Homo sapiens: one gene and its partners. The protein of the gene in region 4 purifies or fractionates together with the protein of the main gene of each other region. This does not show direct contact. Each region holds a gene or a part of one and is shown on either strand. Other genes may lie near its edges.

Region 1 (6,592 bases), on a different chromosome or scaffold from region 4:
GCTTGCACTGTGCCCCTGGGAAAGCCACAGACACTCAATGCCAGCCCATGAAAGCAGCCAGGAAGGGAGCTGTACCCTGCAAAGCCACAGGGGTGGAGCTGCTCAAGGTTGTGGGAGTCCGCCTCTTGCATTAGCATCACCTGGATGTGAGATATGGAGTCAAAGGAGATCATTTTGGAACTTTAAGGTTTCATGACTGCCCTATTGGATTTCGAACTTGCATGGCGCCTGTAGCCTCTTTGTTTTGGCCAATTTCTCCCATTTGAAATGGGTATGTTTACCCAATGCCTGTACCCTCATTGTATCTGGGAAGTAACTAACTTGTTTATGATTTTACAAGCTCATAGGTAGAAGGAACTTGCCTTGTCTCAGATGAGACTTTGGACTGTGGACTTGTGAGTTAATGCTGAAATGAGTTAAGACTCTGGGGGACTCTTGGGAAGGAATGATTGGTTTTGAAATGTGAGGACATGAGATTTGGGAGGGGCTGGGCGGAATGATATGGTTTGGCTGTGTCTCCACCCAAATCTCATCTTCAATTGTAGTTCTCATAATTCCCAAGTGTTATGAGAGGGACCCAGCGGGAGGTAACTGAATCCTGAATGAGGGGTCTTTCCTGTGTTGTTCTCATGATAGTGAATAAGTCTCATGAGATCTAATGATTTTATAAAGGGGAGTTCCCCTGCACATGTTCTTTTGCCTGCCACCATGTAAGATGTGACTTTGCTCCTCTTTTGCTTTCCACCATGATTGTGAGGCCTCCCCAGCCATATGGAACTGTGAGTCAATTAAATCTTTTTCCTTTATAAATTACCCAGCCTTGGGTATGTCTTTATTAGCAGTGTGAGAACAGATTAATATACATGCCAACTGTACCAAGCCCCGTCTTTTAGCATGTCAAAAATTTCAAAAGCCTTTCAGCCTTCTAAAATGTACCTCACTAATTTGGAATTTATTATGTATCAATATGTGTGAAACAGATAAAAACTAGAAAATCGCTGCACAAAATAATGCTAGTTGTTACATGCAAATGTTTAGTGAATGGGAAATGGCATTAATCCCAATTTGGCAATGATCTGCTTCAAAACATTAGAAGAGTCTGCACTTCTGTAACATATAATATCATCCGATTGAGCTTGGGCCACAGGAAAGAACACTTACAATAAATAACAAAATTGTAGTAGCTAGTTCCAACCTTCTTACTGAACCTATTTTAAATTACCATTTTAAGAAATTCAGCATATTGAAACTTATATAAATTGGCAGCTAATTAGAAAAAGTATGTTTATTTTAAATATAAATTACTAAGGGTAGTTTCTCTGCATTATTCCCTACACGATAATATAAATTTATAATGACTCCATTTGTTTCTACAAATGTTTATCTAATTAATGAAATCTCTTTAATTATTCCAAATTTAAAAGGTTGATTTAAAAGAATTTCCTAAACTCAGTTGAGCACTAAAACAAATTCTCAATACATTTCTGTTAACTTAATGTAGCAAACATTTCCTTCCCTCTCCTTCAGAAATGATAGATCTCATATATGACTGAAAACCACTGGTTAAAAAAACAAATTCAGTATCTATTAAACTTAGGTAAAATATACAAATAATTAGTGCCAGACTTTAATAAATAAACCACCTGCCTTGATCTGAATTGGTGCAGGAACTGAGCAGAATAAGTAGCAGATACTCTTGTTTGCAAAGCTTAGGCTTCAAGTTATTTCTATTTTAATATTTTTAAATCTGACAATATAAAGTATCCTTAATACTTACTATGCATTTTTCAATTTCAAATATACTCTAGTAAAGTAGAAAATAAGTCATAATTATTCTATATTCAAAGATATATTTTGATTGATTTTATTTCTTAAAATCAATATTTCACAAAACTTTTTTCAATAAGACCTGTCACGATGGCCTAAAACTTCTGATCTCACCTTTTTCAAGATTATTCTTTTGTATAATTAACTCTGTAATACTTTAAAATTTTTCAAGCATTAAAAACTAAACACATTTTCCAATATTTATTTTTCATGATTCATTAATATATTTAATGACTTTAGCTTTGAAGTATTCTTCTAATTTGGAAACCAAGTACTTTTCAAGCTTTTGCTTCTGAGGTGTTCTGGGAATAATATAGTAGTCACTTAAATTTAAATATAATTCCTCAATAAATGCTCTGACATTTTACTATGTAACATTTTGGAAAGTTTTACTTACTGAGACATCTTTCAGGTTTTTCTCAAAGAAGAAATAACAAGACTCTTTAGAAAAATTAAACGTGTATACATCAGCTGGTCCTGCTCCTGACAACAATGCTTTTCTCAGTTCACCAACATATTTCCCTTTTTCCATTGCCATGTCATCAGCTTCTTGGGAAATCTCTGATTCAGAAACTATGGGAAATATTAACAAAAGTTTTAAAATGAAAAGTAAATGACTACACATGAGAAAATATTAGTTTATCTGTTAGTACTAATTTATCACATGTAACAGAAATTCAAACAAGTAAAATCAATCCCTATACTACACATTTTTAAATCAAATTATTCCTTTTTACTGAACTAGCAATTTTTGAGAAATGCATTAATTTAGACTCACATCTCGTAAAATACATTAAACCCTTGACATTCTTTCTCTGTCTTCAGATGAAACGCATTGTAAATTATTACAGAAACTCCCACTTTGTGTAACTGCTCTTAGGTCAAAGCCAGATAATTTCCTACAATGAATAATAAGTTCAGTATTTTATAACATCTTTCTTCCTTGCATCAAAGATTCAATAGCCTATACTGTGTTTCTCACTCATATGGGCAGAGTAAAACAAAAGCAAAAGTGGAGCTCACTATTCTCATATCATGTGCCAACAACAGAAAATATGGATGAAAGGAGATGATAAGGAAATAATAGGAAGGAAACTAAAATGTACGAGCATCTCCTCTGCAACACATACTATACTAGAGACCGCTTCCAATTCTCTTATCTAGGTATTTTTAAAGCTGATGTTTTACTATCATTGAGATTTTTGTTTCAATAATTATATTTTCAATTCTAGATATTATCTTTGTTCCTTTGTCATTATATCCTGTTCTTATCCTACCCTTCTTTTAAATATTTAAATAAACGTATTTTAAGATCTCTTTCATTTCTGTATTTATGTGTGGCTCCTGGGGTATAAATTATGTTTCTTCTATCTGTGGAAAAATTCTTGTTTTACTTGTTTTCCTTTCATGCTTTGTAACATTTGAGTACAGCTCACCTCTAGCCAAAGTGGCAAGTGCTCTGGGAAGAAGTGGTCTTAAATGAAGGTTGCCTTTCTGGGGGTCATTACAAGTTTTATCAGTTTGGGACTAGTTTTGAAAGTTAATTTCTCACCTCGATTTTTACATTTGAGGCAAAGTGTTCCATTTTAAACCTCCCATCCACACATAACACAGGTTTAGGGTTCTGATTTTTCTTGAGACTTTTATTCACTCATAGTCCTTAGGGATTGTTCTGTTTTTATGCTGCATCCTCTGGACAGAGAGTAGTAGTTTTTTTAAAAGATTATTTTATTAACAGCATATATTTTCCAGGTTCCTTTCTTTATGCTGAGAGCTCAACTCCAATTCCCTAAGAGGTCTGAAGCCTCAACATTCTACCTCACTCAAACATTATACTCACTGTCATCTAGAAGTATATCTAGTTCAGATATTCCATGAATCTACAAGTAAGCTTTAATTCTCATCAATTACTTTGGTTTTGAAATACCTCTTCAAACATGGTGTCTGAGGTTTTCCCTTTCTTACACTCAAAAGTGGCAATGGGTCTGCATACTTGTTTGTTTTTAAAATTACAAGATTCAATCTCGTTATTTGTTGGAATGTGTGTGTGGTTGGATGGTTTCCTGTGTTAATTTAGGCTATCACAGTAATGATAAAAGTCTCATATGGTTGTATAATTTCATACTTATGCATTACACTTATCTATTTTAATTCCTTATAAAACTGAAAAACAGATATTATTTTCATTTTGCAAAAGAGAAAACTGAGGCTCACAGAGATCAAGTAATGGTCTAGGGTGATGAAGTAAGTAACTAGTGAAGCTGGGATTAATACTCATATCTCTCTGCATGTTTTATTTTGAGGTGAAGCAGAGACATGAAACATTGGATAAATTATTTCCATCCATAATTTTGAAAAACAACATTAGTATAAAATATTACAGAATATAAGGAAATCATGATTAAAGAATCCCTAAAATGGAACACACATTTTCATACCTTTGGTCTCTATGCTATCAAGTGTCTGGAAGACCCATGACAGTTAATGAAAAAGGGAGTCTTGCAAGGTACCAATATTTTTATATGATCAATTTTTGATAACAAGTTTTGATAATAAAATATGATTCTCATACGTCACACAACCTTTGGAAGGAGGTAAGAATAAAAATAGCTTATATTCATATATTAACAGCTTCTAAAACACTTTCACATTTTCTCTATTGGAAGTGGACACATTTAATATGATCATCACTATCAAACCTATTGATCTTTCAAATGCCCTAGTAGCTCTTCTAAAAAAAAAAAAAGAAGAAGATAAATGCTTCCTATTTAAGGAATAATTTCATATTTTGTGTTTGCATTATGTTAAAAAGTAACTATCTAACTTTAACTCACCAATACCTAGGAAGAACAGTTATTTCACAGAGAAATAGGAAATAAATTTGTAGATGCCATCTTTAATGCGGCCATAGAAAAACTTGAAGAAAACACAAAAGAAAACAGAGAACATCTATTTAAAAAGCATCTAGTTAAAAGTATTCTAAATTTCATTAAAATGAAAAGATACCTGTCTGAAAATATGTAATCATTCATTCATTCCAAAAATGCTAGCCTGTGGAGCTCAAATTCAAGTGCTAATATCTTAGACAACATTTTAGATATCTGTCAGTTATCATCCTAGATATCCTCTTATTTTCCTCTCCTAATAAATACTGTGCTGATTATTACGGAATATTTAATTTTTGAAGGAGAAAAAAACGTATGAAAGGAAATTAATTATGTAAAACAGCTATTTGTTCAAAAATGTACTTGAAAAATTCCTATAAAAGTAAACATGGAAATCTGACTGCCTACATAGGGCTTCAATCCTAAAAAACCAACCTGGTCACCAGTTTTGAATTCTGTGCCAAGAACATCTGGAAAAAGTATAGCTGTAAGCACGCGATGCTCTAAAACTTCAGTGACCAAGAATAAAGGCAATGGAAATAATAAAATTCAGCAAGAATGCAACTGAACCACATAATAAGGCATAAAACATGAGCAGCCCAACATGACCAAAAAACAAGGAACTGGTAGAAGTCAGACTGAGACTCACTTTAACACTGAAAAGCATCACTTTTGCAGTGTTTATAGGTAGATGAAGATGTAAGTGAGGAAAGAAGATTTTTTTCCTTCAGATACCTATATATAACTAGCCAAAAGCCTGCACACATCCTAAGCTTGTACTGGAGCTCAGAAGACATACAGTCTTATCATACCATTAGGATTCTAGTTGGTATTGCATCATAAACCCATTTCACTGCTTGATTTATTAAAATCCTCTTTCCACTGAGTTCTGTCACTATTTCCATATAAGTCAAAAAATATTTACACTCAAGATAATTATAAGTGGATCTAATTAGTGGATAATAGAACAATTAGTAAAGTTTAATTTACTCTTTAATAAACTTCAAACTACTCCAGAGATGGGTGATATAAGTTTCCTACTGCCAATAGGAATTCTTATGAAAGTCAGAGTCATCGATCATTAACCCACTTTGTGACTTACCCCTGTGATATAACCGCCTGTAATACTGATGTGATGATAGACCACATGATAATTAGATAATTGGACCTCAAAAACATTCATTAGATAAAACATTGCTAATGGAAATCAGTGAGTTTAGTGTAGGGGAGATTAAAAGAAAACTTACATCCTTTTAATTTCACTCAAATAAAAAGAGAAAAAAAATTGTCCAAATTGAAGGTTGCAGTAATCAAAATGTTGAACAAAAAAAAACAGGATGAGGTATCGGAAGGAAATCCGTTTCCATGTTTCAATTATTTAATTGTTTCAATGTCCTTAGTGATGTTATTGTCTACATGTAAAGTACCAGATCACATTTATGGAATAAGCCTTAACTAAACATGGGCACAGTGTTATATTATTTGATTTCCTATTTTGTCCCTGATATGTAAACAAGAAAACAGAAATGAATGAAGGCATAAAACACATGAGAGATTTAAACACTATTAGATATTTTTGAAAATAAAATGACCACATAGTGCACTATAAAATTTTCTGTTTTAAAGCTTGTTTGGTACAGGAAACCAAAATGGTAACAATCCACCTGAGAATACATAAGTTTGATATCACATTTTTGTCACATTAAATTCCACTAGCTAAAAAATAAATGGTAGAATATACTGCAGTTATGACAAATGTCAACAATAAGTAAATATAAAACTGGAGTTTTCATTCAAAAACATGCTAACTCTAAAATGAACAATTTATTTTCTTTTTTCGCAGACCAGTTTTATATATTTGAGACATCCTTTCATTCTTT
Region 2 (6,592 bases), on a different chromosome or scaffold from region 4:
AGCCCGTCTCCAAAAAAAAAAAAAAAAAAGTAATAAAACCAAACTGCAGATTACATACAGCATGATACCAAGGATCTAATCAAATAACTCTGTGTGTGTGTGTGTGTGTGTGTGTGTATTTAATATGTATATATGAAATATGTTCTTTATGGATACACTTATGCCATAAATATAAGAGATGGATTTTACACATACCAACCTCTCAATGACTGTATCAGGAATGGACAGAATGAAATAATTTTAATGCCTACTGAAGGTTGAGAGCTCTGGGTTTCCAGTTCTAGCAACTAGGTGAAATGACCTAAAGTGGAACTCCCTCCAGCCATAATCAAGTAAGAAACTGCAACACAGTAATGTATATTTTTAAACTAGCCTGAAGAAAAAGGAGCTTTTTCTCTCTTCCTTGCTGCTTTCTCCTCTTCCTTTGTTCATGTTTGCTATACCTCATTATTCAACAGTGAGATGACTCATCAAAATAATTCAATATAAGGCCGGGCATGGTGGCTCACGCCTGTAATCCCAGCACTTTGGGAGGCTGAGGCAGGCAGATTACCTGAGCTCAGGAGTTCGAGACCAGCTGGGCAACATAGCAAAACCTAGACTCTACAAAAAAAATACAAAAATTAGTCCGGGACAGTGGTGTGTGCCTGTAGTCCCAGTTACTCGGGAGGCTGAAGCAGAATTGCTTAAGCCTGGGAGGCAAAGGTTGCAATGAGCCAACACTGTACCACTGCACTCCAACTTGGGCAACAGAGCAAAAACTTGTCTCAGAAAAAAAAAAAAATCAATATAATTAAAAAATTTTAAATAAAAAATAAAACCTTCCAAAGAGTAAAATTACTAGGAGCCAGAGGTAGAGGTAGATAGTAAATTTATAGACAGAAAGATTAAGCTATGGCAGTGCAGTGGGCTACAAAAACAAATAAAAATGCTAGGGGCTAAAAAGACGTGGTGCTAGAGCTGATGTCTCAGTATACAGAACTTCAACAAAAAGAGCAACTTTAAAAATGCCCACGGACCCAAGGAGACAGCAGGGAGTCATGTCTGCCCAGAACATTGAGTGGCCACTGTGTTTCTATAAAAAGTGGCTTCAGACAGAAATTAACCAGAGTTGAAAATTATTACTTTTACCCATAGTGAGAGAGAGAGAGAGAGAGAGAGTGTGTGTGTGTGTGTGTGTGTGTGTGTGTGTGTGTGTGTGTGTGTGAGAGAGAGAGAGAGAGAGAGAGAGAGAGAGAGAGAGAGAGAGACAGACAGACAGACAGACAGACAAAGACCATGTTGTCTCTAAAAAAATTCTCAGGCTGGGCACAGTGACTCACGCTTATAATCCCAGCACTTAGGGAGGCTGAGGCAGGCGGATCACTTGAGGCCAGGAGTTCAAAACCAGGCTGATTAACATGGCAAAACCCCATCTCTACCAAAAATACAAAAAATTAGCTGGGCATGGTGGTATGAACCTGTAATCCCAGCTACTTGGGAGGCTGAGGAATGAGAATCACTTGAACCCAGGAGGCGGAGATTGCTCAGCCACTGCAGTCCAGGCTGAGTGACAGAGTGAGAATGTCTCACACACACACAAAAGTTCTCATTCCATGAATGCAAATGGTACTCTGGAGGACTACCCGATAGTTTTCTTAAAGCTATCAGGAAACAGTAACTTCTGTAAAGCCTTACCTTGATCGACTGCGATCCTTATTACGATCTGAGCTCCTTTCTCTATCCCGGTCACGATCTCTCTCTCGATCCCGATCTCGGTCTCTCTCTTTTGTCCGGTCACGGTCCCTATCCCGTTCTCGTTCCCGCTCCCGTTCTTTCTCCTTTTCTCGTTCACGTTCTCTTTCCCTTTCTCGTTCCCGTTCTCGCCTTTCTCGTTCCCTTTCACGCTCCCTCTCTCTTTCTCTCCGTTCTTTCTCAATTTCCTGTCTTTCTTTTTCCTTTTTGCCTTTCTCTTCTTCCAGTTTCTAGAAACCAATAAAAGCACTTTTAGAGTTAACTCTGTAGCTCCAGTATTCAGATTTTTCCCGGCGCAAAGCCCAGTACTGGGAACAAAAACACCAAACCACTGATACATTAATATTAAATACTTGTGGTTTTATGTGACAAATTAAACTGAAGCAATCACAAGACTAGAAAGATTTCGTGCAAAACCATATACTCTACACAGACCAGGAATCTCCAATCTTGGATGCTGGGAGATTGTGTCAGGTGTGGCTGGCCACTCAATGACTATGTACTAACTAAAATGACCATGAAGAATGTGGTGGTTCGAAATATTTTCTATGAATACGATCATTGGTTAAAACTCAACTCTGTGCATTATAGATTTCTGTAAATCCACAAGATTATTAATACTAATTAAAACCCCAGACTGCACATTACCTCAAGTTGAGGGTTTCAAAGGGCAAGTGGTATAGAAGAATACCTATAATGCAACTAAATAATCTCTGCCCTCTGATTTGCCCACCCTCCAAAAGAAACACAAGCTGAATTCAGCCAAGAACTGCCTTATCATCTATGGAAACATTTACTCCCACCATTACAAGATGGACAGCCCACCAAATACAAAAAGTTTGAAAATCACTCACTTCAAGCAAAATATATGTAACTGTAATAGTTTAATTTAAAATATTTAAAAGCAACATACTTATGCCCATTATGCCTGTAAGACAATGAAAATATATTTACAATGATAAATCCATCCTTGGAAGGAACGATTGTGCATTAACTTACAGATGCTGTGCTAGGACATGGATCGCCAACACTGGATTAACCTTGCCTACAAGCTATGTTTCTGGGAGGAAGAGCAAGTACATGGTTCACAAATAAACCAAATAACAAAGTCAGACCAAGTTTGTACCCTGACAAGATTACCAGTGTACCACACGGTTTCTACACAAACTCAGAAAAAAATACCCCAAACAGGTAAAACAAAACAAAACAAAACACATTTATCCCTTTTGTTTCACGTTTAGTTTCACCAAAATGAAATTTTAAACTGCAACAATAAAATGTGCATTTTTCTTTTCTCAGTCATGTAATGCATTTAAAACAACTTTAAAAAGCAATCTTACCTGTCAGATACTCTTTTTCTCTTCCTCATGGATCAGAGAACTTATAGCAGGTTATGAAAGGAAAGCTAATGTATGAGCAATATATTCAGTTGCTGTGCCAGTCTATATCGAAGTAGAATACGGGCAAAGTCAAAACTGAATACATTGAAATTACAAAGGGATGAAATAAGATATGATAGAAAGAGGACAGAAACTAACAGCTATTAAAGGGGGAAAAATCTCATTTCTGAAACAGTTCCAATGAATATAAAAATTTATATTGTAAAATGAGGCTAGACTATATAAAACTTACCTCAATGGCATACACTTATAAAGAAATTTGTTTATTTCTGAAATAGATACTTACAGAATATTTTAGCTGTTCCAATACTAATTTTTCCTGTAGAATTCCTCAATTTTTAATTCTTGCTTATTTCACTGTGCTCCTTATATTCAGTTATATAAATAACCATTTGTTTCAGAACTCATTTCAAAAGTTTGGTTCTAAGTAAATGAAAAAGTGAGTGAATCTAGTCCATACTAAATGTTTCCTGAAGTTTATATATGAGATATATATATATATATATATACACACATGTATACAAATACAGGTATACATGTAAACATACATGTATATTTTTAAAGAAAGACTGGAGAAGGGAAATGAGGTGAGTCTAAAATTATGTAAGAAAGTCATGAAGAGGAAAGGACAGATTAAAAAATCATAAATCTTACCTTATTCTCTCTTCAGACTCATCCGTGCTGTAAATGGACGCCCCCTGCCACGCTGATACCCTGACAGTCTGTGGTTATTTAATAAACTCATACCAAAACATGCAAAGGTTCACTGAGCTCATTTTTTGTTACTGGAGTTTCAAACAACCCTTTTAGCCAAACCACCCAATAAAAAACAACTGTTTTGGTTTTTCATTTTGATTTCTTTTTATTTTGAAAAGACATTCTGAAAATTCAAAACATTCCCTCCAGTGAAATAATACTAAGGCAGTAAAATGCCTAACAGATTCCCAAACTTTAAAGCAAATATATTTTTGAATTTTTCTTAAAACATGATTTCCTCATAATTTACCAATAACATGACAGGGTTTAACAAATAAATAAAAACAAAAAGGGGGTAAACCACACACACAACCATATACCATTTTTAAGCTTACTCGGTCCTGAATTTCAGTATTATACCTAACCAAAATTATTCATCTAAAATGATTTCCCATAGACCACCTTTTCAACTCTCAAAATTAATTTTGGGAGAATTATGTTTGTGCTCTTAGACACATTTAATTCTTGAAAAAGCATTGTGTTTGTGAGCAAGGGCTGGGCATCTGGATAGTAAGTGTTCAGCAGCACTGATTCATTGGCATTATTTGTGAACTGCAGATTTTGAAAGCAATGGGAAAAAGTAAGAATAAAAGAGAAAATGAACATTTAACATTTCACTGAGTTAAAGATCTCTCAGTCTATCAGTAAGAACCAGCAACACCTTATTATCTCGACCATCAAAATACATTTCATGCAGTGTTTGCATTGCACCGTTCAAAAGCATCATTTTCAACACCAGCGAACATTCACAGATGCACTGTCATTGAGAGAAGCTTCAAATAGGCAAAACTCGTGAGTGGGATTTACTATGCATAAATACCCATTTCCAAGCCAGTTACCCCTTTGCATATTTTTCTGAGGGGGCATCCATAAATATAATAAAAAACAGAAGCTCATACTTACATCCTATTCCTTGTTACTTTCCAAGCTGAGAGTTTCATCTTGCATTAGTCACCATATGATCTCTATCATAATGGTGGGGGTCAATGAATAGATTAGCTTTATGGGAATTTACAGTTCTTCCATGCATCTAAAATTTGGTAAGTCTGGTAACCACTGACCTACTGTTTAAAATCTCCCCCACTCAACTTAAATCTATACAAATATAAAATGTAAATTTTAATCTCAGCTCTAAAGAAAAGGTATTCCTAAGATCAAGTTAAATAACTGCCCCCAGAAATACACTACAGTGTATGTTATCCTGCTGCCCCCTGAATCTAATTTAAGTCTGACCTTGATGTTTATGTTGAAATCTAAAAATAAAATTAGCTTCTATTCATATTAAAGTGAGATGACTGCAGAATAGTCAGTAACTGAAAAAACTAAGCACAACATGTCAAGGACCACTTTAATATGGTATTGGTCTTCTGTTTCTTTTTTCTATCTAAATATCAATTAAACCTATAAAAAACATTTAAAATTATATTCTAATTTAAGGTTGATTTTTTTTGTCTCTTTGCTTTGGATTCTGTAAAAAGTCTAGATTGGTATCAAGTGAAAAGACAAGAATACTACCTTATGTGTGTCTCTGAATTTGCTGATCTCTCGAGATATCAGGTCTCTTTTGTCTTCTTCCATTTCTATAGCATTTATATCCTCCTAAAAGAAAACGGGCACAGGAGGGAATGAATAAAGAACACCCTACTTCAATATAAACAGTTAAAGGTTAGATATTCTGTATAGGTCTCAAAGAGTAAATAAGTAAACAGAATATCCACAATAACAAATCTAACAATCTAAAGTTAAATAGTGAAAAATCAGATAGACAAGAATGACAAATCAACAATCAGCAGTAAACACAGGTATTGTCAAAGCCTACAATTTAAACTAACCTTAGTGATGAGTGGATAAGGGATCAGTGGGGCCACTGGAAATCTGCGGAAAATCTGTGAAAAAATCCACCAAGAATCTTTTTTAAAAAAGAAAAACAGAGCTCATACTAATCTGCAAAGCAATGCCCTATACATTTATGACGTGAACAATACAGTACACTTCTGTGATGCTTTCTTGATTTCAAATTACTTGGGAATAGAAGTGATTTCACTCTTTTTACAATAACTGATCACACACTACCCTCCTCTCTGGATACTCCAACACCCCCAAGAAATGGAAATATAGAAGGTGCTCTCATAGTAGCAGGGCTTTCTAATCATACCAACAATATTTACCCATAACTCCTGCCACAGAGGAAGAATTTATTATCTCCTCCCAATCCACATCAAACAAATATGTTATTTTTCTCCTTTCCCACTAATGAAGAAAGAGGAAGAATGAATTCTACAGGCCTCAATTACCCTGTACCTTACTGACCCTACCAATTACCATTCCTAACAGAATACACCTCCTTAGAAAAGTTATGGGTCGGGCACGGTGGCTCACGCGGATCACGAGGTCAGCAGATCGAGACCATCCTGGCTAACACAGTGAAACCCATCTCTATTAAAAATACAAAAAAGTAGCTGGGCGTGGCAGCAGGCACGTGTAGTCCCAGCTACTCAGGAGGCTGAGGCAGGAGAATCGCTTGAACCCGGGAGGCAGAGCTTGCAGTGAGCTGAGATCGCAGCTGCTGCACTCCAGCCTGGGCAAGTGAGTGAGACTCCGTCTTGGGTGGGGGTAGGGGCGGGAACAAAAAAGAAAAGTTCTATGACCAAACGAGGAAACACATACCAAATAATAAAAATGTATGTATCTGGCCACAAAGA
Region 3 (4,313 bases), on a different chromosome or scaffold from region 4:
TGATGGCGCACGCTTGTAATCCCAGCTACTCGGGAGGCTGAGGCAGAAGAATTGCTTGAACCCGGGAGGCAGAGGTTGCAGTGAGCCGAGATCACGCCATTGCACTCCAGCCTGGGCAACAAGAGTGAGACTCAGAGAAAGGAAGGAAGGAAGAAAGAAAGAGAGAGAGAAAGAAAATAAAAGAAAAGAGAGAAAGAGAGAGAGGGAGGGAGGGAAAAGAAAGGATAAGAAAAGAACACTCCTGGGGTAGTATGAAAGGAACACCAGGGCTTAGAGTTGGAAATGACCAGCCACTCTTTTCTCACCTTCCAAGGCTCCCACAGGAAAAACTGGGCCTCCCCTCTGTGTATTCCTCCGCTATTCTCCACACAACCCAAACCTGATCACAGCCCTCCCTGCTGGAAATAGCAGCGGCTCAATATAAAGCCCAGAATCCCCAACATGCCTCCTATCCCTTGCACAGTCTGGCCCCTCCTGTCCCATTAGCCTCATCGTGTGCTGCTTCCTTCTCCTGACTCGCCACCCTCCAGCCAGAGAGACTTTACCCATGCTTTTCCAGGTACCCAGAACGTTCTCCACCCTATAGCTTTTTGCCTTCCCGAGTCTTACCCAAATTCTAAGCTTGATTTTCTCTTCTTGAGGGAAGTCTTTCCTATACCCCCAGTTGTGGTTACATCCCTTTAATATATGTGCTCACAGCTTGCTGTTTGACCTCTTTGGAGCACAACCGTGATTTAATAGTTTGTGTCATAATTTGTCTGGTGTGTCTCCCTCACTAGACTGTAAGCTCCAGAAGGTTGGGAGCATGTCCATTTTGCTCACTGCTGTATCTCTGGTGTTCATACAGTCCTACATGTAGGCAGCTTTCAGTAAATATATGCTGAATAATGAATGAGTGAGCTGGGCGTGGTGGCTCACACCTGTAATCCCAGCACTTTGAGAGGCCAAGGCAGGCAGATCACCAGAGGTCAGAAGTTTGAGACAAGCCTGGCCAACATGGCAAAACCCCGTCTCTGCCAAAAATACAAAAATTAGCTGGGCATGGTGGCGTGCACCTGTAATCCCAGCTACTTGGGAGGCTGAGGCAGGAGAATTGCTTGAACCCAGGAGGCGGAGGTTGCAGTGAGCCGAGACTGCACCATTGCACTCCAGCCTGGATGAAAATTGCTAAACTCCATCTCTAAATAAATAAATAAATAATGAATGAATGAATGTTTTCTCGGCACTTTTGGTCAGCCCTCTAGTAAAAACCCACCACTTATCACATTGTATTACAGGCTGCTGTGGACACATCTCCTTTCCTTATCAGACTGTGAGCTCCTTAAGGGCAGGGACTGTGTCTTATTCTTCTTTGAGCCTCCATTGCTTAATGCAGTACTGGCATGTGGCAGGCACTCATATATTTGTTGCACGCACTCAAATATTTGTGGCGGACCTTCCCTCTTAACGTGGAGCTAAGTACCTTCTGCAGGGAGGCTGATGCTCTCTGTCCCCACAGATGTGAGCTGTGATGAATGGGCCTTCTCTTTGCTGCCTCTTGATGTGGATCTGCTGAGCATGGAACTACCAGAATTTTTCAGGGATTACTTTCTGGTAAATGCAGAGGCCCTTGTGTCTTGGCATCAGGGGATGGGGACAAATGTGGGATGCAGAGGGCTAGAAATACCAATATAACCTTTGTCCAACGCAAGTAATTTATCACAAGTGATAGTGATGTGGTGATTGAGTGCTACAGATTGGTCTCTGTGGGACTTCCTGTGGAGCCAATGAAAACCTTTCAAGCATCCCCCAGGCCCTGCCACCCTGCTCCAGGGCTTCTAGGGCTAGCCACTTTCCAGGTGGTCCTACTGGGTTGATTCATATCTTTGTGGCTTGTGTGGTCCCTGCAGGAAGGAGATCAGCGTTGGATCAACACTGTAGCTCAGGCCTTACACCTTCTCAGCACTCTCTATGGACCCTTTCCAAACTGCTATGGAATTGGCAGGTGCGCCAAGGTAAGAGCACTAGCAGTACTGTTGTCCCAGCAGACGCTGTTTTCCCTGTTCTGTACCCTCCTGGGGTTATCCAAGGGCACCTGTGATATGAGGTGTATTCTTTACTTTGCTTTCATTGTTCTGGAATAGATCCTCAGAGAGGAGAACTTGTGTGGCTAACAGAGAAGCAAAAGCCAGGATCTCCTGGGTAGCATTCCTAAATCTCTTTTTATTTTGGGGACAGAGTAACACATCTTCTCATCAGTAGGAAGAGTGTTGGGGAAAGATAGACACAGACGGGAGTAGATAGGGCCATATTGTGAATAATTAGCTCCTGTCTCGGGGACAAGAGGAAGTATCACGTGGAAAGGGCTGACTTCTGTAGGTATGGGGCTGCAGTAGGGACCTGGACACAAGACTGAGAATGTCTTGGGCCCTGGCAGATGGCATATGAATTGTGGAGGAACCTGGAGGAGGAGGAGGATGGCGAAACCAAGGGCCGAAGGCCAGAGATTGGACATATCTTTCTCTTGGACAGAGGTAAATTATGCCCAGCGTTCCTGTCATCTTTCAGCCCTAGAAGACACGGGAATATGGAAGGCGTGGTGGCAAAGTTAAAATCCTAAAGTTAGGGCTGTGAATCCCAGCTTTGAGGAGCGTGGGTCCTTGGCCCTATGGAAAGTATCAAAGCTGCCCTTGGACATGCTGTGTAGAAGGCTGGGTCAGGGAGAACCTTCATGGTCAGGGATCTCTGTTTCAGATGTGGACTTTGTGACAGCACTTTGCTCCCAAGTGGTTTATGAGGGCCTAGTAGATGACACCTTCCGCATCAAGTGTGGTAAGTGCTATGGTCCTCTGCATCTTGGCAAGATGGACGGGTCATCAGCCTTGGCACCTCCCACGTGGGGCAGGGTTTGTGGGAGAGACCCAGACCCTGAATGAACTGCTGGCTTCCAAATAGTTTGAGGACCTTTATGGCAGTTCAGGGAATGGTAGGAGAAGTCCTCATTGGAGATCCTAATAGCTGTCCCTCTGCTCTCAAAGGGAGTGTCGACTTTGGCCCAGAAGTCACATCCTCTGACAAGAGCCTGAAGGTGCTACTCAATGCCGAGGACAAGGTGAGGGTGTGGGTGCTAGCAATGGGCCCACCTAGGGCCACTGCTTATACCAGGCTGTGGGCCCCCTGCTTATACCAGGCTGTGGGCCCCAGCTCTGAGAGGGGAGGCTGAGTCTATGGGAGAGAGGGTTTCCCCACCAGTTCAGAGCATCTCCTAGAACACGGTGTAGGCATTTGATATGGACTTACAGATCCCAGCTCAGCTTTCTTTGTATTTCTGCCAGAACACCTGAGTACCCTTCCTGTACTGTCATTCTACTGCTAAGTTATGGTTCTGACAGAGTAAGCTGTTCTTGTCTTACTGTCCTCACAGGTGTTTAATGAGATTCGGAACGAGCACTTCTCCAATGTCTTTGGCTTCTTGAGCCAGAAGGCCCGGAACTTGCAGGCCCAGTATGATGTGAGGCTCCAAGCCCTGCTCCTCTGTTTTGTTGCCTCAGTGGCTTCCCAAGGCTGCTGCCCTTGGGCTCCCCTTCTAATACTATGACAGGTTCCCTGTCCTTTCTCATGGATGGATGGCAACTGAGGGAGGGTGGTGGTTTCTCGTGTCTGAGGTTGGGGGGTTCACCTTTGGGAATTTTCCCACAGCGCCGGAGAGGCATGGACATTAAGCAGATGAAGAATTTCGTGTCCCAGGAGCTCAAGGGCCTGAAACAGGAGCACCGCCTGCTGAGTCTCCGTAGGTTTCAGCTTGAGGGGCGTGAGGGGAAGTGACTGTGTCCCTCTGGGGAAAGCTCCAGAGGACCATTACTCCCGAGGAGGAGATCCCTGTTCATCTGATGCATATGGTCTTACTTGGTGTAAAGTGGGAAGAAGTGCTTTCGGATTTTGCCTTAGGAGGTTTTTTATTCTTCCGGACAATAAAGGGACATCTTTCTAGAACCAGGAGTATGTCAGCTCCCTTTGTCCAACCTGCAGATATTGGGGCCTGTGAATCCATCATGAAGAAGAAAACCAAGCAGGATTTCCAGGAGCTAATCAAGACTGAGCATGGTAACTGCCGCAGCCTTGCTGTGCTACTGCCCACGCTTCTACTTCCCCAGCTCCCAGCCCCGTCCCACCCTTAAAAGATGTTCTCTGGCTCTTTCCAGCTGACACTGGCTATGTGGAATGCTGGTTCCTGCTAGAAGTCCTGGGGGTCCCTTAACCCACCCCAAGGATGGAGAAAGAGATGGGGAGACAGACACCTGTTAGCATAGATGGCAGCAGCTGAGCTGGCCCCC
Region 4 (6,592 bases):
GTCCACCTGCTACCTTTGCCAAGACCACACACTGACTCAGAGGCGGACCTGGGTTACAAGCCCAGGCTGTGGTGACCTTGCATTTTACTGCACTTGTGCTTGGGCAGATCCCCTCATCTGTTCCTGCTCTGTGTGGCCAGCTTATTTTTGGTAAGATTTAGTGTCATCAGCAGAGTAAATTTGGAGTTAAATCTAACTGTAGAGTGGGAATGTATGTGGTTCCTTTTTGCTGCAACACTGTCTGAAATGCTATGGAAGCTCACTTCTTCACCTGAGCCCATGCAGTTTTCAACAGAAGCACTTAAACATCCAAATCTAATTCCTCTAGAAAAGAACCTAAGTAGAACAACTTCTCATGGACTGCCCCATGAAATAATCCTTTAATCCTAAGTAAACATGAGGTCAACTAGGTCTTTTAGTACTTTGTTATGCTGAACTTATATTTGAAAAGCATTTGTTAGCATCCTAACAATGCTTTGTTAGTTTCCGCTTTTGAATTATGCAAATTTCTTCTGTCATAATAAACCTTAAGAAGGTGCTTTTCATTACAGATGAAGACATATATCTATCTGCCAAGAACTAGAAATAAACAAATGCTTATGTCTTTTAAAGACTCACAGTTCCAATTAGATGGCAGGGATTATGTATGTTTCCACTGAAATGTGAGATGACTTGGGCATGTAGAACCATATATCAGAGAAAAACACTAAAGAAAAGGGAATGCTACCTATAAATTTTTTTTCCCAGACATGTATATGGTTCTTCTACCTTGAAATTTAAATGCTGATGGTTAGTTTTCATTTTGTTTTTACCCTAGACTAGCAGTTCTAAAAGAAGGGCCCCTGAACCAGTGGCATCAACATTACCTGGGAACTTGTTAGAAATATACATTCTCAGTTCCTGCCCTGGAAGTTTGGAACCAGAGACTCTAGGGAGTCTGACTGGGTCAGCGATCTGGGTTCCAATAAGCCTGCCAGGTGACGATGACTCACCCTAGAGCTTGAGAACCTCAGCTCTAAGCAATGGCAGCACCAGCATTCCACTGAGCAGGATGGAAGCCACAACACTTCTCTCCACTGGGTTATTCTGAAAGTTATATAGTTTTATAAACGGTAGTTGGCTAATTCCAAAATTTTGATTCCACTCATCATTAAAATACATGTTTGGGATTTTTTTGGGGAAAACCTTCTTACCTGATGGAAGAATAGGGGAAAGGCACGACTCACAGATGTTCTCCTCTGTAAGAAAACACACATACTTTGGATTATGCCCTGTTTATACCTGCTTGGCCATTTCTGAAAGCAGGGCACGTGGTTCCATATGATTATTTCAATTTTACCCACCATCAACAAGAACACCTTTCATTTGAGTTCGGTGCATTTTCTTCAGTAAGGACAAAGAGTCAGCTACGAGAATCTTCTTGCAGCCTTCACGAAGCAGAATCTAATGCATACATTTTAAAAGAAAAGCCATCTTAAGTAGACTCAAATCTGAGGGGTGAAGGGACACTGTACTGGGGATTCCAAAAGCTGGCATGCTTGAAATACTCAAAAGGGGCACTCACTGATTCTCTTGCCCTCAGTACCCTCTTCCTGCCAAACCACTGCCAGGCTGACCTGGCCAGCCAGGATCCACTCATTACTCTGTGCGTCATTTCATCATTTCTTCCAACCATACACGGGCTCCTGTAGCATTTGTATAATCAAACATAAATTCCAAAGTCTGGCAAAGAAGGCCCTATATTAACTAACCCTATTGCTACTTTAGAGGGCTTCCTTATACAGATCCTCTTGGGCAGACTTTGGCTCCTACATCATGTGTTCATTCCATTCTTCAGATCTTTACCCAGAATGAAAACCTGCTATTCCAAAATCATCAATTTATTTCATAAATTAATCTATTTACTGCACAAATAAGTACTGGGTCCCTATCACGTATAGGGTACTGGGTATAGATAATAAACTAAACAGATACAATCTCTGTCTTAAATCCCCTTGAGGATGCAACCTATCTTTTTCTTTCCAAATCTAATCCAAACCATTCAGCATAGTGCTATGAATGTGGTGTGTGTGTGTGTGTGGTATTAACTGACTATAATAACCTTCAAATTTGGTGACTCCTGGGAGGGGTTTGAAAAATGACCATGAATACAAATATTCTCTCATAAGAGTCCTTTTCTTTATTCTTCATCCCAGCATTATAGCTTTTGTTTCTTTACACATTTTTCTTATTCCCCTGCAGGCTTTTTACTATTTCCTCCCTTCCTGCCTGGAGAATGACAAGAGACATCACAATGCTTTGGCAGCCTCAGAAGTCAGAAGCACACAGTGGAGGATGATGCCCATTTCTGGCTGGTACCAATGTTGTATTTCAGAACTGGAGGCACGATGGGGTCCAAGATCCTCCCCTGCTTTTAGGTGGGGACACAGCAGGGACAGGCGACACTTTACCTTTCATGTCCATTCTGTGGGGCACAGTGTGAGCTCCCACCCTTTGCTGGGTTTTCTTAGGTATTAGTAGGAAACTGAGAGGCTCCAGGAGGTGTGCATAAGCCAGATGTCATTTCATTTATTATTATTATTTTTTTTTAACCAGAACTTGTTGCTGCTTTTTCAGAGGGAGAAACTCAAGGCCTGAAGGACAGAGACGCTCTGGGGCTGTGCCTGTGGCTTCTCCCTTTGGGCCCTATGTGTCTTATCATACGCAGTTATGTGCAGTTACACATGTCACATCATAGAAGTTCACATTAACAGACAGCGCTGTCTCACCACAGCCCAGCTCTGAGGCTGAGAAGCATGTGTCTTTCACGGGCAAGTGCCACTGTTTAGAGGGGGCACTTTGGCTTTCTTCATACTGAAGTCACTCTCGACTTGACAAGCTAGATGGGCATTTTGCTTTCATAAGTTTTAAATTCATGCCACTGGGGAAGAAAAGTAAGGGAGCAGCCAACTGCAGCCCTCTATCCTCAGTGGTCCACGTGTTCCTCTGAAAATCCCAAAGAGCACTGGCTTTGGGTGAATCCAGCCGAAAGCCTTTTTCCCCTAATTATACAAAGACAAATTAATATTCAGGAAAACAAAACTAATGTCTAGATTAAAGTTCTATGCCTGCCATTTCTAGTATTGATGAACAGGAAATTACATGATTTTAGTATTCCTACATTAATTGAGAAACTGCCTATGAAGTTTTATTCTTTAAAATTCTACCAGGAATCAATTTTTTTTGGATTTTTAAAAAAATACATTAAAATTTTAACAGACTGCATTAAAACATACAGGTAGAAGAGAAAAATAACAAATACAGTAAGAAAGATAGCTAAGAAATATGGATGTCAGGAAACTTTAAATAAATTTAAAAGCAAACATATAAAGCTGCTTAGCCTCCAAGACAAAAATAAAAAACTTAAGAGTAATGGTTTCAACCACAACATCTCAGATAAAACAATTTTAAAAAATGGCTCTGACTCTCGTGGGTGCTCCAGGCCCATGGCATGAATTATATAAGAGAAAGGCAGGGCCAGCAGTCTAGACAGAGGCCACTGTGTCTACAAGCTAAAAAAGAAAACAGCAAAATATGCAAACCAGGAAGGAGCCATATCCTCAGCAGGATTACATTTTTCTAAACAGGTACAATCTGTCCGCCTGCAGATAGCATTTTCTAGGAAAATTCATTATTCAGAGGCAAACAGCCAGGAGAGGGGAAAGTACACAAATACAGCTTACTGCTATCTCCTACTTCATTTGGTCAAAATTCAAGGCTCCCAATCAGAAAAACAGGAAAACATTTTAAGTTTCATTTATATGATCCCAGGCAGGTATTTCAAAATATGAGACTATCCTCTATAGAATGTAATCATTTATTCTATAACATCTGTAATAATGTGTAGGCAATTAAAGGTGATAAGTGAAGGAAGACAGTACAAGATTATAATGTACTACAATCTACAGGTATTGCTTTCAACATCAGACATAGGACAAGGCATTATGTTGACTATGGATTCCTAGTAGCAACTCCATCAGTGACTCATGAAAAATGTGCTGTTGTTCACATTCATTTCACCCTCAAAAATTCATACTTGCAATTTCCCATGAGTGTCTTTTTTATAAAGACACTGATGGCCAAAAGTCAGATGCCACAGCAGTTGGCGTAAGCAGGTCATCCTCACCTCTTTTTGACCTTCACACTCATGATTTTGGATGACTGCTATGTTTCAAGGTCATCTTACCCAGCCTATCTTCGCAACCACAGACTATCATCACCTTCCCCATCTCCCTTCTAACTTGCAAATGTGATGTTCTTTACATACTTAGGGCACATGCACACTCTTCTGTTACTCAGGTTTCGATGACCAGAATGGCACTGAGCACTGCTGCTCTTGATCTGAGCACTATCTTTCATTATTTTGTGCTATTTTTCTTTTTAAAATATGAAATATTAAAAAAAAACTGAAAACAAAAAAAGACCCAGTCCCTACCACCTAGATTTAACAAATCTGTTGATATTTTCCCACGTGCTTCAGATCTCATTCCAGAAAATAAAGTATTACAGACACAGCTGACACTTTCTTGCCCTCTACCATTCCTGCTCCTTCTTTTCAAACACAACTCCAACTTCATTTAGTGTGTGTCCAGCTGAAATATACAGCTGGCTGGGGCTCATGTAACATAGATCTGGTCAACAAGATAAACATCAAGCCTGGGAAAGCAGCCCTTTCAAATCAAAAAGCAAAGCCTCATTAGGAAAAAACCCCTTGCTTCCCGCATGTGCCATATGAAGTGTGGATGTAAAGCCTAGTGATACGGCATCTACTTTGTCACCAAGAGGCAACAACCCTGAGGTACACTCTCCTGTTAATGCATGCTGAGGTTATGTCCAGTTTAGGGCTACTAAGGAAATCCAAAGGACATTCTTGTACAGATCTTTTTATGGAACTGATTTTCATCTCTTGAGTAAATACCTAGGAGTGAAATTCCTGGGTCATGGAGTAGGTGTATGTTTAATTTTTCAAGTAAATGACAAACAGTTTTCCAAAGTGGTTATATAGCATTTTATACTCCCACATATTAAGTTGGATATCTAATAAAAATATCTTCCCTCTTGAATAATAATCTTACTCTTAATTTTTATGTTAAGAGTTAGGACCAGTTTATTAATTTCCATGAAAAATTCTTTGGATATTTTGATTAAAATTTTATTGAACATACAGATGATTATTTTAGGGAGAACTAATAACATTTATGATATGGATGTACTTTTAACAATTAAATAAATGGTCAAGTTCAATTTGCTATTGATTTATGTATTATTTTTGCATTTGTGTTTTTAAAAAAAAGATAGGGCTATAATTTTCTCATACTGCCCTCACGTAATGCTGGTATTAGGGTTACACTAGCATTCCATAAGGAACTGAGGAACTTTTCCATTCAATTATCTGGAAAAGTAAATGTAACACAGAAGCTGCTTTTTATTTAGTTTTATTATTTTTAATTAATTTTTTTTGACAAGGTCTTGCTCTGCCACCCAGGCTGAAGTACAGTAGCATGATCAGAACTCACTGCAGCCTTGACCTCCTGCACTTAAGTGATCCTCCTGCCTCAGCCTCCCATGTAGCTGGGACCACAGGCATGAGCCATCACGCCCAGCTAATTTATGTATTTTTAGTACAGACAGGTTTTCACCATGTTGCTCAGGCTTATCTCAAACTGCTGAGCTCAAGCCATCCGTTCACCTCAGCCTCCCAAAGTGACGAGATTACAGGCATGAACCACCGTATCCAGCCAGCTATTTTTTAAAAGGATAAAACTTGTCTCTAAAACTGTCTATGGAATAAGTGCCTTTATTGTAGCTATACATTTTGACTACCAATGTAATTTAGTTAATGATTATAGGTCTATTCTATTTGCTTGAGTAAACTTTTACAACTTATTATTTTCCTAGAAAATTGTACAGTTCTTCTGAGTTTTCGAAGATATTGATATAAACTCGTATTCTTTGTTTATTTCAGGTGTTGAAAACTTAGTCTGCAAGGACTTTGTTTTTTACGGTTATGCTGGTTGTTTCCCCGTGCCTTTTTCTTAAACTTTATGGAATTTGCAAATACATTTTGTGATGTTTCCTGAAGGTTTATAGACTACAGAAGCTTATAAGCATGCAGTTTTGAAGATTATGTCCTCCTTCACACCAAAAGTAGTTTTTGTTTTCCAAAGTATGTCTAACTGGCCTTTCAAAGATCAATCATTTTTAACCCACTAAAAACTTTCTCACCTGTTTCCTCCTGTTTTACCCTGGTTTCTTATTCTCTGTGTTGGACAGCCTCTGATATCACTTTCAGAACTTAAAACTAGTTTGAAACATCTCTATGAAATATCTCTACTTGGTAAATTAAACAGCACCATTATTAACCTTTGCTTTGTAACCTATGTCTCTTATTAGAGTATCACTGACAATCGGATGGTTGTGGTAGCTCACACTTATAATCCCAGCACTTTGAGAGGCTGTGATAGGAGGATCTCTTGAGCCCAGGAGTTCAAGCCCAGCCTGGGCAACATAGTGAGACCCTGTCTCAACAAAGAATTAAAATAAAAAAAATTAG
Region 5 (6,592 bases), on a different chromosome or scaffold from region 4:
CTGGCCTTAAGTGATCCGCCTGCCACAGCCTCCCAAAGTGTTGGGGTTACAGGCATGAACCACCACACCTGGCCCCTGCATAGTTCTTAACAAATCCATCTTTGAGTCTTTTTTCCATGCTGGGCACTGTCCTAGATGCTTTATGTAAGTTAATTCATTATGCTGCTGAGAGGTAGCAGAGTTCCTAATTTACTGCTTACTAGCTATAAGAGCTTAGATAAATTATTTAACTTCTCTGTGCCTCAGTTTCCTCAAGTTTGAGGAAATGGGAATAACAGCAGTATCTGCCTTAAGCGTTGCTTTTTGAGGACTAAAAGGTATTTGGTAAGGGTTTAGAAAAGCACATAGCAAGTATTCAATATATGTTAGCTATACTGATTAAATATAATCAACCGTGAGATAGATTTTCCCCCACTTAGAGAAAAGGAAAGTATTTGGGAAGGTTAAGCAAGTTTTCCAAGGTCATTCAAACGGTTACATGGCATTGTTAAATAGGTTTGCAACTTGGAACTGAGTATCTGAAACCTGGATTCTCCCATTTCTTCAAGGCTACACTGCTGAAATCAGGAAATGAGGTTCTATTCTGAAGTTCTCATGCTATCTCACAGTATAAACTTGTGCAGATCACTAGTATTTTCAATTCTTCATCAAATCTGAATCCCTCAAATGCCCAAAATAAACCTGAAGCCCTAATATGCACGTAATAACTAGAGTGTTTCCAAAGCAGAAAGGATATTAGTGATACAGGAGGAACATGATCTCTCATCTGATCAATTGGGAGGATTCCGCTGCAAGTCATTTCTGCCTTGGTAGACACAAAAGATGGCATCACCAAGCCAGGACAGTCACACAGGCAGAGGCCAGGCTCCACATAGAGAGTCTGGAAGACAAGCAAGAGGTTTGAGCTGGGTATACAACAGATAAAAGGAAGAAAGAGCTGCATGCAAGTGGCAAAGCACCACAGAAATACCTGAAAGTGCTTTGTGTGACCAGGTGTGGCAGACACAGATACTTTCTTGTTGCCCATGATGGTGTTGATTGTTGAACTCTTACCAACATTAGGGTAGCCCACCTAGAAGAGACTCAGAAGTTACCAAACAGTAAAACAGTACATCTATCAAAAGACTCAAAGATATGACATAGATGGTGGCAAGACTAGCATAAGCATCTGGTTACTTTAGAAAATTATTTGAAATCCATGCTGTGTTTGTTGAGACATCTTTTTTCTCCTGTGGTGTGGGTATATTTATTCAGACACATCTCCAGTGACAAATGGCCAAGTTATGCACATTTTAATATTATATGTTTTGCTGTTAACAGCAGATGCTACAGAAAATTTCATCCCCTTGTTCCCAGCCTTCCCTCACTGCCCCATCTACAGACAGTGGTTTCCATCGCATCTTCCACACTGGGTGAGGCTGATCGGATGGACATTTGAATAATCACAACACACAATTATTTTTAATTTTCAGTCACGTTTTAGTTAAAGCCAAGTGGAATGTCTGGCATGTGGCAGGTGATCAATAAGTGTCTGCAGAATTTCTAGAGTAAGAAATTCAGAAAATGAGGGAGGATGCTCAGTTTTTCCATAAATGTGAGAAAACTTGTAGAGAAGCTGAACTTTCTGATACAAATTTTTAGCAACAATATAGAGAATGAAGCTTTAAAGCTCAGAGACATTAAGCAACTTTCCCCGTGTTCCTAACAAGTTAGTTCTACTGCTGAATTGGGAATTACACCTAGGTCTGTCTGATTCCACAGACAGCTCTTTTAACTACTGCACTAAAATAAGATGCTAATCTACTGTAGTCATTTTAAACAGGCATTTTGGGGCAGGGGGTTGGGGCAGAGAGAAGGGGGCTCAAAACTAACTAGGATTAGCTACACTTAGCATGTAACTGAAAAGCTGGGAGACTTTAAACATGCCATGACCTCCTTTCCCTCACTGTTATATTCTGGATAGGTCTTTATAATCAATACCTTCTCTAACATCTCACATCTCCTTAGCTAAGGATGGGGCCATCTAGAGCCATGTCGTAGCCCCTCGGGGTTTGCGCACTTCCGCAGCCACTTCTGGAATTAGGGTATGTAAGGCTGGGGATGGGATCTGCTTTCCCCTATCTACTATGCAGTGTTTATGCAACTAATGCATTTGTCATATTTCGTCCAGCCCCAAGATGCTGGGATTCTCCCTATTAAGCATCTGGAACATTTACAGCATAAGCTGGCAAGGATCACAGGGTGCCCAAAGAACACTGGGCTGAAGTCTGAAGACAACATTAACATCTCTCTCATTCTGCTGTCTTGGTACTTCACACGGCAGGAAAAGCTGAACTGAAAGGAGACTGGAGAATACATTCAATGTGAATAGGTATGTTACCAACACAGGCCTTGAGGAAGTTGATTCCTTTGAGTTGGGCTCTGTCTATCCCACTGCCTAATCCCGTGATGCCAGTGGGCAACAAGAGGGCAATGTTCCCTACGATGCCGGAAGCCTGGTTGGTCTTTGGGGTCGTGCAGCTACTGAAAAATGGGGATTAAAGACAATCACGTGGTAACAATGTTATGACATATGTCATCTTACCAGTCCGACCGTAAGTTGCCCATCTTTCACCTTTCTCCCAGTGTGTAGCTCCTTAAAGAGCTCCAGTAACTCCTGCTTGGATACCAGATGGCTAAAATTGTGTATCTGCCTCTTCTGTGGGGTTTTCCTGCTCCGAGCCTCAGAATCTGCAGTAGAGCTTTCCTTCCAGTCCTGGCTGCAGTCCTCTTCCTTGGGACCGTCTTCTTCTGAGCACGTCTGCCAGTCGTCTTCCTCCTCCTCTGGACAGTCCTCATACTCACTGTCATCTTCATCCGTTGTGGGATTTTCACTAAGTGAAGGAGAATCCCTAGCTGGGAGATGTTCGGATTCACTGTGGGAAATTTCAGCCTGGTCGAAACTGGAATGTCCAAACTTGGTTGTGTTGCTTTGTCTATCATCTCTGTTTGCCTCTTCCTGACAAAATAATAGAAACGCTCAGAAGTATATAACTGCAGTTTCCACTCTAGTAAAAATACTTAATGAGTTGTAAGATGGACAGAGGATGGCTGGGCGTGGTGGCTCAAGCCTGTAATCCCAGCACTTTGGGAGGCCAAGGTGCGCAGATCATTTGAGGTCAGGAGTTTGAGACCACGCTGACCAACATGGTGAAACCCCGCCTCTACTAAAAATACAAAAATTAGCCAGGCGTGGTGGTGCACACCTGTAATCCCAGCTACTTGGGAGGCTGAAGCAGGAGAACTGCTTGAACCTGAGAGGCGGAGGGTGCAGTGAGCCGAGATGGTGCCACTGCACTCCAGTCTGGGCAACAGACAAGGCTCTGTCTCACAAAAAAAAAAAAAAGATGAACAGGGGACAAGCAAAGTTCGACGGAGATGGAAAGGTGAACACAGGGAGGAGACAACGAAAGCCTTTCAGTTCAGTGCCGTGACAGACAACCATCGAGGGTGGCGCCCTCCTGGAGGGGAGAATTGGACCTTCCCTTCACTTTTTACTTTATATGTTTCTGTACTATTTGAACTCTGTACAAAGAACATGTATTACTTTTGTAATTTAAAATAACTCTAGGCCGGGTGCTACGGCTCACGCCTGTAATCCCAGCGCTTGGGTGGCGGAGGTGGGAGGATCGCTCAAGGCCAGGAATTCAAAACCAGTCTGGGCAACACAGCAAGACTGGGTGTCTACAAAAACAAACAGAAAACCACCACCACAACAACAACAACAAAACTCTTCAAAGACAGCAAGGGGAAAAGCTTATGTTAAACTGAACTCTTGACAGTACGTTATTTTGCAATGGGCTGCATGATAAAACAAAGCATTTCTCAGGAACAACAACACATTTAACATACTCCTCTCTGCACAAAGCAAGGGCAGACTTTGCCATTTGCAGTTCATTTTACATTTGTATTTTTAAAGACGGTGGTTGGCATGTTTAAAGAAATCTGCTCTTCTCTCATAATTGCTTTTAGAAGTCAAAGCACCATGGAGCACACACAGATCCCTGTGTGTGAAATGTGGCAGCAAAACTCAACTCCACATGTGGAAATTATTTACTGATGAAAGATTCCCTTTGGAAAGTGAAAGGTACAAATCATTTTCTACTCAAGGGTGTGTTAATTCTTCTGAATCCCTCTTGACAACAAAGCAGAAATAAGGGTGAATTTGTCGGGACTTGAAAGTGATGGAAACCTGGTATCATTTCCAAGTAGCTTTGTTAGAATGATTAACAGTCACAGAAGGGGACACGATGAACTCAAACATGTATCCTAAATCTTAAGAAAGCAGAAATAAAAACAAAATGTCAGGAAAAATAGGTATGATTTAACAATCAAGCCTGGCAACTCAAAAAGAACCCTGGCTTATGAGAGAAATATAGAACTGGAAGCAATTTCTATGGTAAATGAGCAGCGAAGGTAAAGAAGTCAGTGTCGTCACTGTGGGCTCTTTTGAGTCATTTTCAAATATGAAAGTAGCATAAAAACAAGAATGTGAACTGAACATGAATGTGTAGTAGAAAAACTACAGCGGGGAGCAGTTCAGCTTCAGGAAAAGTACTAAAGACAATCAAAGGACTTTGCCGTAATTATGTTAAAAATTAAAAGAAAGAAGGAAAAAGTCAAGCTTTCGGGGAACACAGTGCACTTTCAAGGTGACCAAAGGAAACCAGAGATACTCAACTCAGAATTGGCCTGTGTCTTTTGAAAAATGTCACATTTTTTCAGAACATTCACGTTTTTCAAACAACTGAAGTTGAACAACTATAGAAGATGACCCAAACTTCCAGGCAAGAAAACAGTGAATATCAGGCTACTTCTAATACATTCATGTTTGATACCCAAATTACAGATATTAGTATCAAGTTACAAGTAAGACTTCACAACCTGAGAAATCATGGAAAACAGCAGAGTCCAGAAAACTTGGGAGAAGCAAATGGCGCCTCACTCTTAAAAAGGAGGAAAGAATATCTTCCATAAACTATACACTGTTAATCCAGACACTGACATTAAAACAATTCTACAGGTGACCTGGTGAGCCCTAAAAATAAGACAGTCATCAACAGGAGGCAGTGAGTTCCCTGAAAACTGATCATGCAAAAAATTTCATTTCCCTTTGTTATCTTGGTTAGTAAATCAAGAAGGCCACAGATGCAGAAACTAATCTCTTCCATTTTTGATAGGGTTATTGCATCAGGGCAGAGCAATATAATGATAAGTATCTATTTTAAAACTTCACCAAGACATTGACTTCCAGGAAAGACTGGAAACAATAGAAATAATGGTTTAACAGGGCAAACTATTCTTCTGCCTAAGAATGGTAAGTATCTATACTTACTGCCGAGAAGACTAAATGAGTAAAATATGTAAAGTGTTTAGAATAGTGGTGTCTGGTAAAGAATATGTTTTTATTAACTGATTAATTTTATGGGTTAGTTTTAATTATAGTAATAATTATTATTGGTATATTCTTGTGAATATATCTATATTCACATAAAAACGCTTGGCATAAGTCAATCCTAAGCCAAAAGAACAAAGCTGGAGGCATCACGCTACCTGACTTCAAACTATACTACAAGGCTACAGTAACCAAAACAGCATGGTACTGGTACCAAAACAGAGATATAGACCAATGGAACAGAACAGAGCCCTCAGAAATAATGCCACACATCTACAATTATCTGATCTTTGACAAACCTGACAAAAACAAGCAATGGGGAAAGGATTCCCTATTTAATATATGGTGCTGGGAAAACTGGCTAGCCATATGTAGAAAGCTGAAACTGGATCCCTCCCTTACACCTTACACAAAAATTAATTCACGATGGATTAAAGACTTACATGTTAGACCTAAAACCATAAAAACCCTAGAAGAAAACCTAGGCAATACCATTCAGGACACAGGCATGGGCAAGGACTTCATGTCTAAAACACCAAAAGCAATGGCAACAAAAGCCAAAATTGACAAATGGGATCTAATTAAACTAAAGAGCTTCTGCACAGCAAAAGAAACCACCATCAGAGTGAACAGGCAACCTACAGAATGGGAGAAAATTTTTGCAACCTACTCATCTGACAAAGGGCTAATATCCAGAATCTACAAAGAACTCCAACAAATTTACAAGAAAAAAACAACCCCATCAAAAAGCGGGTGAAGGATATGAACAGACACTTCTCAAAAGAAGACATTTATGCAGCCAAAAAACATGTGAAAAAATGCTCATCATCACTGGCCATCAGAGACATGCAAATCAAAACCACAATGAGATACCATCTCACACCAGTTAGAATGGCGATCATTAAAAAGTCAGGAAACAACAGGTGCTGGAGAGGATGTGGAGAAATAGGAAAACTTTTACACTGTTGGTGGGACTGTAAACTAGTTCAACCCTTGTGGAAGTCAGTGTGGCAATTCCTCAGGGATCTAGAACTAGAAATACCATTTGACCCAGCCATCCCATTACTGGGTATATACCCAAAGGATTATAAATCATGCTGCTATAAAGACACATGCACACGTATGTTTATTGCAGCACTATTCACAATAGCAAAGACT

What was found.
Region 1: the proteins of VPS41 (region 4) and XRCC4 fractionate together in Homo sapiens (co-fractionation; one large-scale study listed by BioGRID). This does not show direct contact.
Region 2: the proteins of VPS41 (region 4) and RBM25 purify together in Homo sapiens (affinity purification with mass spectrometry; one large-scale study listed by BioGRID and IntAct). This does not show direct contact.
Region 3: the proteins of VPS41 (region 4) and VPS33B purify together in Homo sapiens (affinity purification with western blotting; 2 studies listed by BioGRID and IntAct, with this or other methods). This does not show direct contact.
Region 5: the proteins of VPS41 (region 4) and LSG1 purify together in Homo sapiens (co-immunoprecipitation; one large-scale study listed by IntAct). This does not show direct contact.

What each region holds. Positions count from the first base shown.
Region 1 is NC_000005.10:83,106,836-83,113,427, reverse strand, and holds part of XRCC4 (DNA repair protein XRCC4), read right to left. Parts: intron 2,401-6,592; coding exon 2,225-2,400; intron 1-2,224.
Region 2 is NC_000014.9:73,098,564-73,105,155, reverse strand, and holds part of RBM25 (RNA-binding protein 25), read right to left. Parts: intron 5,777-6,592; coding exon 5,723-5,776; intron 5,490-5,722; coding exon 5,406-5,489; intron 1,965-5,405; coding exon 1,678-1,964; intron 1-1,677. UniProt on the Homo sapiens protein: RNA-binding protein that acts as a regulator of alternative pre-mRNA splicing. Involved in apoptotic cell death through the regulation of the apoptotic factor BCL2L1 isoform expression.
Region 3 is NC_000015.10:91,005,150-91,009,462, reverse strand, and holds part of VPS33B (vacuolar protein sorting-associated protein 33B), read left to right. Parts: intron 1-486; coding exon of another isoform or gene 487-559; intron 560-1,498; coding exon 1,499-1,593; intron 1,594-1,889; coding exon 1,890-1,994; intron 1,995-2,416; coding exon 2,417-2,513; intron 2,514-2,733; coding exon 2,734-2,811; intron 2,812-3,017; coding exon 3,018-3,091; intron 3,092-3,403; coding exon 3,404-3,490; intron 3,491-3,678; coding exon 3,679-3,769; intron 3,770-4,008; coding exon 4,009-4,083; intron 4,084-4,181; coding exon of another isoform or gene 4,182-4,237; exon of another isoform or gene 4,238-4,313. UniProt on the Homo sapiens protein: May play a role in vesicle-mediated protein trafficking to lysosomal compartments and in membrane docking/fusion reactions of late endosomes/lysosomes.
Region 4 is NC_000007.14:38,727,349-38,733,940, forward strand, and holds part of VPS41 (vacuolar protein sorting-associated protein 41 homolog), read right to left. Parts: intron 1,444-6,592; coding exon 1,344-1,443; intron 1,239-1,343; coding exon 1,194-1,238; intron 1,087-1,193; exon of another isoform or gene 993-1,086; intron 1-992. UniProt on the Homo sapiens protein: Plays a role in vesicle-mediated protein trafficking to lysosomal compartments including the endocytic membrane transport and autophagic pathways. Acts as a component of the HOPS endosomal tethering complex.
Region 5 is NC_000003.12:194,650,145-194,656,736, forward strand, and holds part of LSG1 (large subunit GTPase 1 homolog), read right to left. Parts: intron 2,999-6,592; coding exon 2,585-2,998; intron 1,073-2,584; coding exon 971-1,072; intron 881-970; coding exon 737-880; intron 1-736. UniProt on the Homo sapiens protein: Functions as a GTPase. May act by mediating the release of NMD3 from the 60S ribosomal subunit after export into the cytoplasm during the 60S ribosomal subunit maturation.